Linked DNA regions of Homo sapiens. The protein of the gene in region 2 purifies or fractionates together with the protein of the main gene of each other region. This does not show direct contact. Each region holds a gene or a part of one and is shown on either strand. Other genes may lie near its edges.

The links.
Region 1: the proteins of EHMT1 (region 2) and PRDM6 purify together in Homo sapiens (affinity purification with western blotting, with the first as the bait; one study listed by BioGRID). This does not show direct contact.

What each region holds. Positions count from the first base shown.
Region 1 is NC_000005.10:123,192,417-123,195,001, reverse strand, and holds the end of PRDM6 (putative histone-lysine N-methyltransferase PRDM6), read right to left. Parts: 3' UTR 736-2,585; downstream 1-735. UniProt on the Homo sapiens protein: Putative histone methyltransferase that acts as a transcriptional repressor of smooth muscle gene expression.
Region 2 is NC_000009.12:137,810,683-137,814,504, reverse strand, and holds part of EHMT1 (histone-lysine N-methyltransferase EHMT1), read right to left. Parts: intron 3,045-3,822; coding exon 2,890-3,044; intron 1,500-2,889; coding exon 1,332-1,499; intron 1,120-1,331; coding exon 975-1,119; intron 75-974; coding exon 1-74. UniProt on the Homo sapiens protein: Histone methyltransferase that specifically mono- and dimethylates 'Lys-9' of histone H3 (H3K9me1 and H3K9me2, respectively) in euchromatin.

The DNA.
Region 1 (2,585 bases), on a different chromosome or scaffold from region 2:
CAGTCTGTGTTCTCCCACAATCTATTCTCAACAGAGAAGCAAAAATTATCACTTTAGGTCAGATAACATCCTGCCTCCGCTCAAAATGAGATTTTCCCACCTCACGCAGAGGAAATGCCAAGTTCTCACAATGGTATTCAAGGCTCTATATGGTCCAGCCCACTTTGACTCTTTGACCTTACCTCCTGCAATTTCCACCTCTTTCAATCCACTCCAGCATCAGTGTCCTTCTTGCTATTCCTACATGCTCACATATTTTTTCTAAGTGAAATTTTATTTTCCAACAGAACAAGAGACAAACAGCTGACTTTGGCTTTCTTTCTGAGAGCCCCCAATCACATACATTCAGAAGAGTCATAGCCCCAGGCCACTCTCCGGGCAAGTGCTTTCTGCTGTGCTCCAAAGCTTATGGGGTTAGAGGTCAAATATCAAGTCCAGCCTGCCACAGATTTGTGGCTGGGTCTCTGCGCACAGTTTCCTTAAGAAGCTGTGCACCTGACTTGGTTGGGCAAATGAGCATGTGAGCACATGAATAAGGAAAACAGTAATCTCAAATGCATCCGAATAAACCTCAGGGCTGAATTTTAACAACCTTCCTGCTTGCTAGGTGTATTTTCTAGCTTATACTTCCCCAACAAGAGTTTGTTGACTGCCTACTACCTAAGCTGCACACTAGAATCAGATGGTGCTTGAAAAATGACTGTGGGACTGGAAAAGACAGAATCCAAGGGAAGATCGAGTCATCATAAAAACGTTTTATTAATCAAATATATTTACATTTCTTGGTCAATGATCTCTAAATGTGTACCTGTTTTTTCATTTAAATACAACTTAATCCTGGTAGATTCCATCACAAGAATACAGCAGCATGCATGATCTCATTGGTCCTTTGCAGTTATTTTTTCATTAAATAATGTGAGTTTAATAAAGTTAGAAAACTTTATTAAGTTTTACCCATTCTTACTGTGGGATAATCATTCTTGTCATATCAGTGGCCCTTACAGCAAACTACACACTCCTTATCACCCACAGTGAGATTCTTCTCATTCTCTTAACTGACTTGTTTAAGCTTTCCAAACTCCAAAAGGCAGATGTGAAACTGGGCATTCACTCTAACCATTTTATTTGGTGGAAAGTTGGAGAGAGACATATTTCTATTCCAGTAGGGAACATTTACAGTCCTAAACTTAAAATAACCACATTAAAGAAATGTATACAATGTCCTAATAGCATCTAAATATCACACTTCTATTAGCATCCTACAGAACTGGATGTCTTCCCCTTGATATAAAAAAAATAATTAACTTGGGACATTAAGTTTCCAAAATAATTTTGCTGATCTGAGCCAAAGTTTTCCTTAATTCGTTAGTCATCACCTTAGCCTCTGCATTTAAACTGGGGGAAGGCTTTTTCATGAAATACTTAGAACTGCTAAGGAGAATAATTTTGCCTCTGGCTTTTGCTATACATTTTCTCCAGGTTGGGAGAAACTAGAGAAGTGTACTAGATTGTTCAGAGAAAGTAAGTCTACAAGTGCTGATTTTGTTAACATTAGACAATGCCCACATGTGGATCAACAGGGACTGTGGGTTGGCAGACTTTTGCTCTAAGATGGCTGCTTTCCCCAACATGTGGCAATCACCTGATACGGCATAATTGCTTTTAAACATGAAAGAGTTGTGCTGTAGAAATAGATCTCCAGCTTGTTAAAGTTTATATCTAGACTGTTTTCAGTTGGGAGTGATGTACCAAAGTGGGAGAAAGGCACCAACAAGGATGTTTTTCAAGGCAGGAAACAGGAGATATCAACCAGGACCCACCATGTTTGACAAGGAAAATATATTTATCATTTCAACAAACAAATGTGCCCATTAGAATCAGAATCTGGAGGAAAGTAGTATACATTGTGGTTTCAATAAACCACGGTAAAGAGTTGTAATAAAGCCAGTTCATGATGAAATTTTGTACACTTACTTTTTGAACAAACCTCACAGTTTCATCTAGATTGTGCCCCAGAACTTGAACTGGTTCCTTGAGTACCTCATGCATGTAACTACACTATCTGTGCCTTTGACAAACCAAACCTATAATGACTCCAGTCTTTCTGCTGCACTGCTTTAAACCAACAGGCTAACAACATAAGCCCATATTCTTAATGCACACAACTGCGTAATGACTCCATTGATGCCTGGAAAGTAACTCACTTAGCATTCAGTCAGAACAAAGAAAGAAAACGAGATTTCACTTAGCCCCGTTGAGGATGTGTTTTTACCTGTCGATAGTGTTCGAACCTTATTCTCTTCTGGCCACCCTCCAACACAACCTGCCCTTCCTGCCTGTTGCCATTTGTCCTAATGTATATCACACTTGAGAGGGTTATTTTTTTTTCTTTCAATGTGGAATTTTAGATTCCTGCTTAGAAAAACAAAAACAATGCCTGACAGCAATGGAATAGTTGAAATTCTGTCCAGCAATGAGATTTGGGCATGACAAAATCAGCATCTATAATGATACGTGTTTTAATAGCACTTCAGTATTGTTTCCACAAACACATTTTATAAATAAATTATACTTGTGTTTATTAA
Region 2 (3,822 bases):
TCGTACCAGCAGCGCATGCTGAGCTGGCCGCACATGCAGTTGCTGGAGGAGCAGTCGTCGATGCACACGCAGTACTGAGAAGAGAGGCGCCGGGGGGTCAGACGTGCAGGCACAGGCCTTCCATTTCCCCTCCCAGTCACAACTACGTCTTCCAGTTCTGTTAACCCTGATTCTGGTAAGTGCTTCTCAAAGGCACCACGTGAGTGTGTGGCCTCTTAGGGAGAAGGCTGTGCAGGCAGAAACATGTCGAGTGCCTGTGGGAGGGAGCTCTGGCTGAGGACCCTGACAGAGGGACAGGGGGCAGGCAGGGCAGCGACGCGGCAGTGGGTGACGTGGGGTGGGTGAAGGGCTGGGCGGCGGCTGCATTTGTGGCCAGATGCTCGATGGGAAAGGCAAGAACACAGAGCCTGACACACCTTGTGGGGCGGGGGGCGGGGGGGGGGGGGGGCCTGGGCAGTGCCCGGCCTGGGAAGAGGAGGGAGCTGCCCACAAGCAGAGCCACAAGGAAAGTGCTCGAGAAGGCGCAAGCAGTGAGGGCACCAGGCTGCATGCACTCGGAGGCTGGGAAAGCTGGCATGTGCTGGACCCATCTCTCCGGGGGCTGGGAGGTGCAGGGATCCAGGTCGTCCTGCAGGCCTCGCAAGGGCTCCTCTCGCCTGTGCCCCCAGCACGAAGCCACACCGGGGCCCCTGAGTGTGAGGTTACAAAAAAGGCACAAAGATGCCTGCCACTGCTTTGGGTCGGTAAGAAGCCTTGGAAGAGCAATGAGAGGGCCCAGGGCTGGGCCTGACAGAACCTTTATCTGCCTTCCAGCTCTTTCACGGGAGGCAACTACAAAGAGAATGAGGTCTTCCTGGGAAGCCCCCCATAAGCCCTCCTGCTCTGAGTGGTGAGAACCCAGGACCCCAGGCTCAAGAAGCTTCTGCCTGTCCCATGTCCTGGCCTGAGTCAGCCCTTCATCTGCCGTCACTCACCTGCAGATGAGTGATATTTCTGTCGATGTTCATGGGGGACGTCACGCAGTTCTGAGAGACGTACTTGTAGTTGCTGGGGCATGGCTCGCTGTCCACGGCGTTGACACAGGGGATGGGGATGCGCTCGTAGCCTCGAGCGATGTCCCTGCCATGGAAAGGACAGGTGTCACCTGGTGGCTGACGTGCTCTGCCCAGGGGGTGGCACAGCGTGCAGTGGGGCGGCTGGCAAACACCTGGCCCTGACAATTTGGACTGCAGCCTGGGGATGTTTCGGCTTCAGGAGCAGCTTTCACCGCAAGTTCCCAAAGCCCTGCTGACCGCTGATTTGCCACAAAGCCGTCCTGGGGCTGGGCTCACCTGCTCACTATCCTCTCCACGGGGCTGGGCCTGTCGGGGGCCGAGTCCTGCAGAGCCTTGCTCATCTGCAGAGCGCTCCACACCTGAGAGTTGAGGCTCGCACACTGCAGGGGCGTCTCTCCTTCCTTGTTCTTTAAGGTGACATCTGAATCCCGAGAAAGAAAGAGGCTAAAAGGGAAAATGTAAGGCCACAAAACATTTAAAGCTGACTTGAAAATGTGATACAGATGAGATTTATAAAATGTCCGTCATCACTAACAATAAAGGGAACACTATTCACTGTGAGATAACTTGAACAAGTCTGCTCAGCAATGACTCTGCAAAGACGGGCTTTAGCTCACCCAGGAACATGATTCCCTTCCTCCTCTCCCACATTCACTGTCAAAGTCAGCAGGCTGTTTTCTTAGCAGGAAGAGTGTAAAATCCAGGGCGGCATTTGATTTTTCTTGGATTTTTCATTCAAATTTACCCTCAAGGATAAGAAGGGAAGCAAGGAGGGAGAGAGGCCAAGCTTGGGCCACGCACAGCGTGAGCAGTCCTCAGTTCCACTCCTGCTCACTGCATCCAGACTGCAGTCATCGTACGTGGAGCTGGGCTTCACACAACCAGATGACCAACCTGGCTGAGCCACCGTGAGATCCACATGTGGGAGGGCACAGCCCCATGTGTAGGGGCCAGGGAGTCACTGGAGGCTGGTGCCTGGAGCACCCACAGTTCCCTGTCCTTCCCCAGCAGCCAAACACACACTCCATCCCAGGCCACCAACAACAACCTGAGTGTGGATGACTTTATGGGATCAAGGTCTCAAGCTTTTTTTGTTTTTTGGGTTTTTTTTGAGACAGAATCTCACTCTGTCGCCCAGGTTGGAGTGTAGCGTCGCAATCTCCACTCACTGCAATCTCTTGCCTCCTGGGTTCAAGCGATTCGCCTGCCTCAGCCTCTGGAGTAGCTGGGGTTACAGGCACATGCCACCATGGCCGGCTAATTTTTGTATTTTAGTAGAGATGGGGTTTCACCATGTTGGCCAGGCTAGTCTCAAACTCCTGACCTCAGGTGATCTGCCTGCCTCAGCCTCCCAAAGTGCTGGGATTACAGGCGTGAGCCACCACCACCCAGCTGAAGGTCTCAAGTTTTAAAAGGGCCCTGAGTGGCGAGTGCCACAGCCCCCAGCAACTCCAGCCCTGGCTGTGGGTGGCACTGCTCCCAGAAGGCACCCTGAGCCTCTCGGGGACTCTGAGCTGGCAGGTCCCTGCTGGGAGCAGGGCTGTTCCCATGCTGCCCCTCAGCCATGTGAGGAGTATCAGGTCTGAGACTCCAACTTGGGAATTTTTTCATGACAATCCTCCCTAACCCAGAAATAAACCACAGCTGATCTCAAACGTGGACTGGGAAAGACACTTCTCTGCGTGTGGAACACCAAGGATGGACTTCCACACGAAGGAACAGAGGGCCTGTGTCCACTCACGCCCCAAGTGTGAACACAAGACTGTCAAGCGGTCTCTCTGGGCGCCCAGGTCAGGTCAGCGCCAGCCCGCGCTGGGGGAAGCACTGCACTCACACGACACAGTCGTAGCGGTTCTCCCGGGCGGCAATGTGCAGTGGCGAGTCTCCGTGGATGTTCACGGCGTGGAGGTCGCACTTGGCAGCCAGCAGGATCTCGGCTATGTCCACGCAGCCGGAGAACGCCGCCCAGTGCAGGCAAATGTTCTCCTCCTGAACAGACACAAGCCAGAGCTCAGTGCAGGCTTCCTGCTGGCTCACAGTGCTGGGGCTGGGCCACAGCAGCTGCAGCCCATGTGCCCGGGGAGAGGCTCTGGAGCATGCGTGGCCGTCCGCAGCAGGGCCAGGTGGAAAGGGTGCCACAGGTCACCGGATGGGAACCTAGCGCCCATCTCAACTCTGGAAGGCACTTCGTTTCATGTTTTGTTTGTTTCATTGTAAAAATAACATAATTATAAAAGTAGCATAATCACAGTAAAGAATAAAAATAGGGAAAAGGTCATCCAGAATTATATCAACCTACACTCAACATATTAACACTTGGAGGCACTTTTCTTTCATGTATTTTTAAAAATTATATTCATTTCCAAGCAGGGGTATAGTCATAGGATAGGATAATGCTTTTGAAAGATTTGAAAAAAGGACGTGCAAATTTGATTAAATTAAAATTTTGGGCCGGGCATGGTGGCTCACGCCTGTAATCCCAGCATTTTGGGAGGCAAAGGCAGGTAGATCACCTGAGGTCAGGAGTTCGAGACCAGCCTGGCCAACATGGTGAAACCCCGTTTCTACTAAAAATACAAAAAATGAGCCGGGCGTGGTGGTGGGCACCTGTAATCCCAGCTACTTGCGAGGCTGAGGCAGGAGAATTGCTTGAACCCGGGAGGCAGAGGGTTACAGTGAGCCGAGAACGTGCCACTGCACTCCAGCCTAGGCAACAAGAGCGAAACTCTGTCTCAAAAAAAAAAACAAAAAATTTTACTTTAAAAAA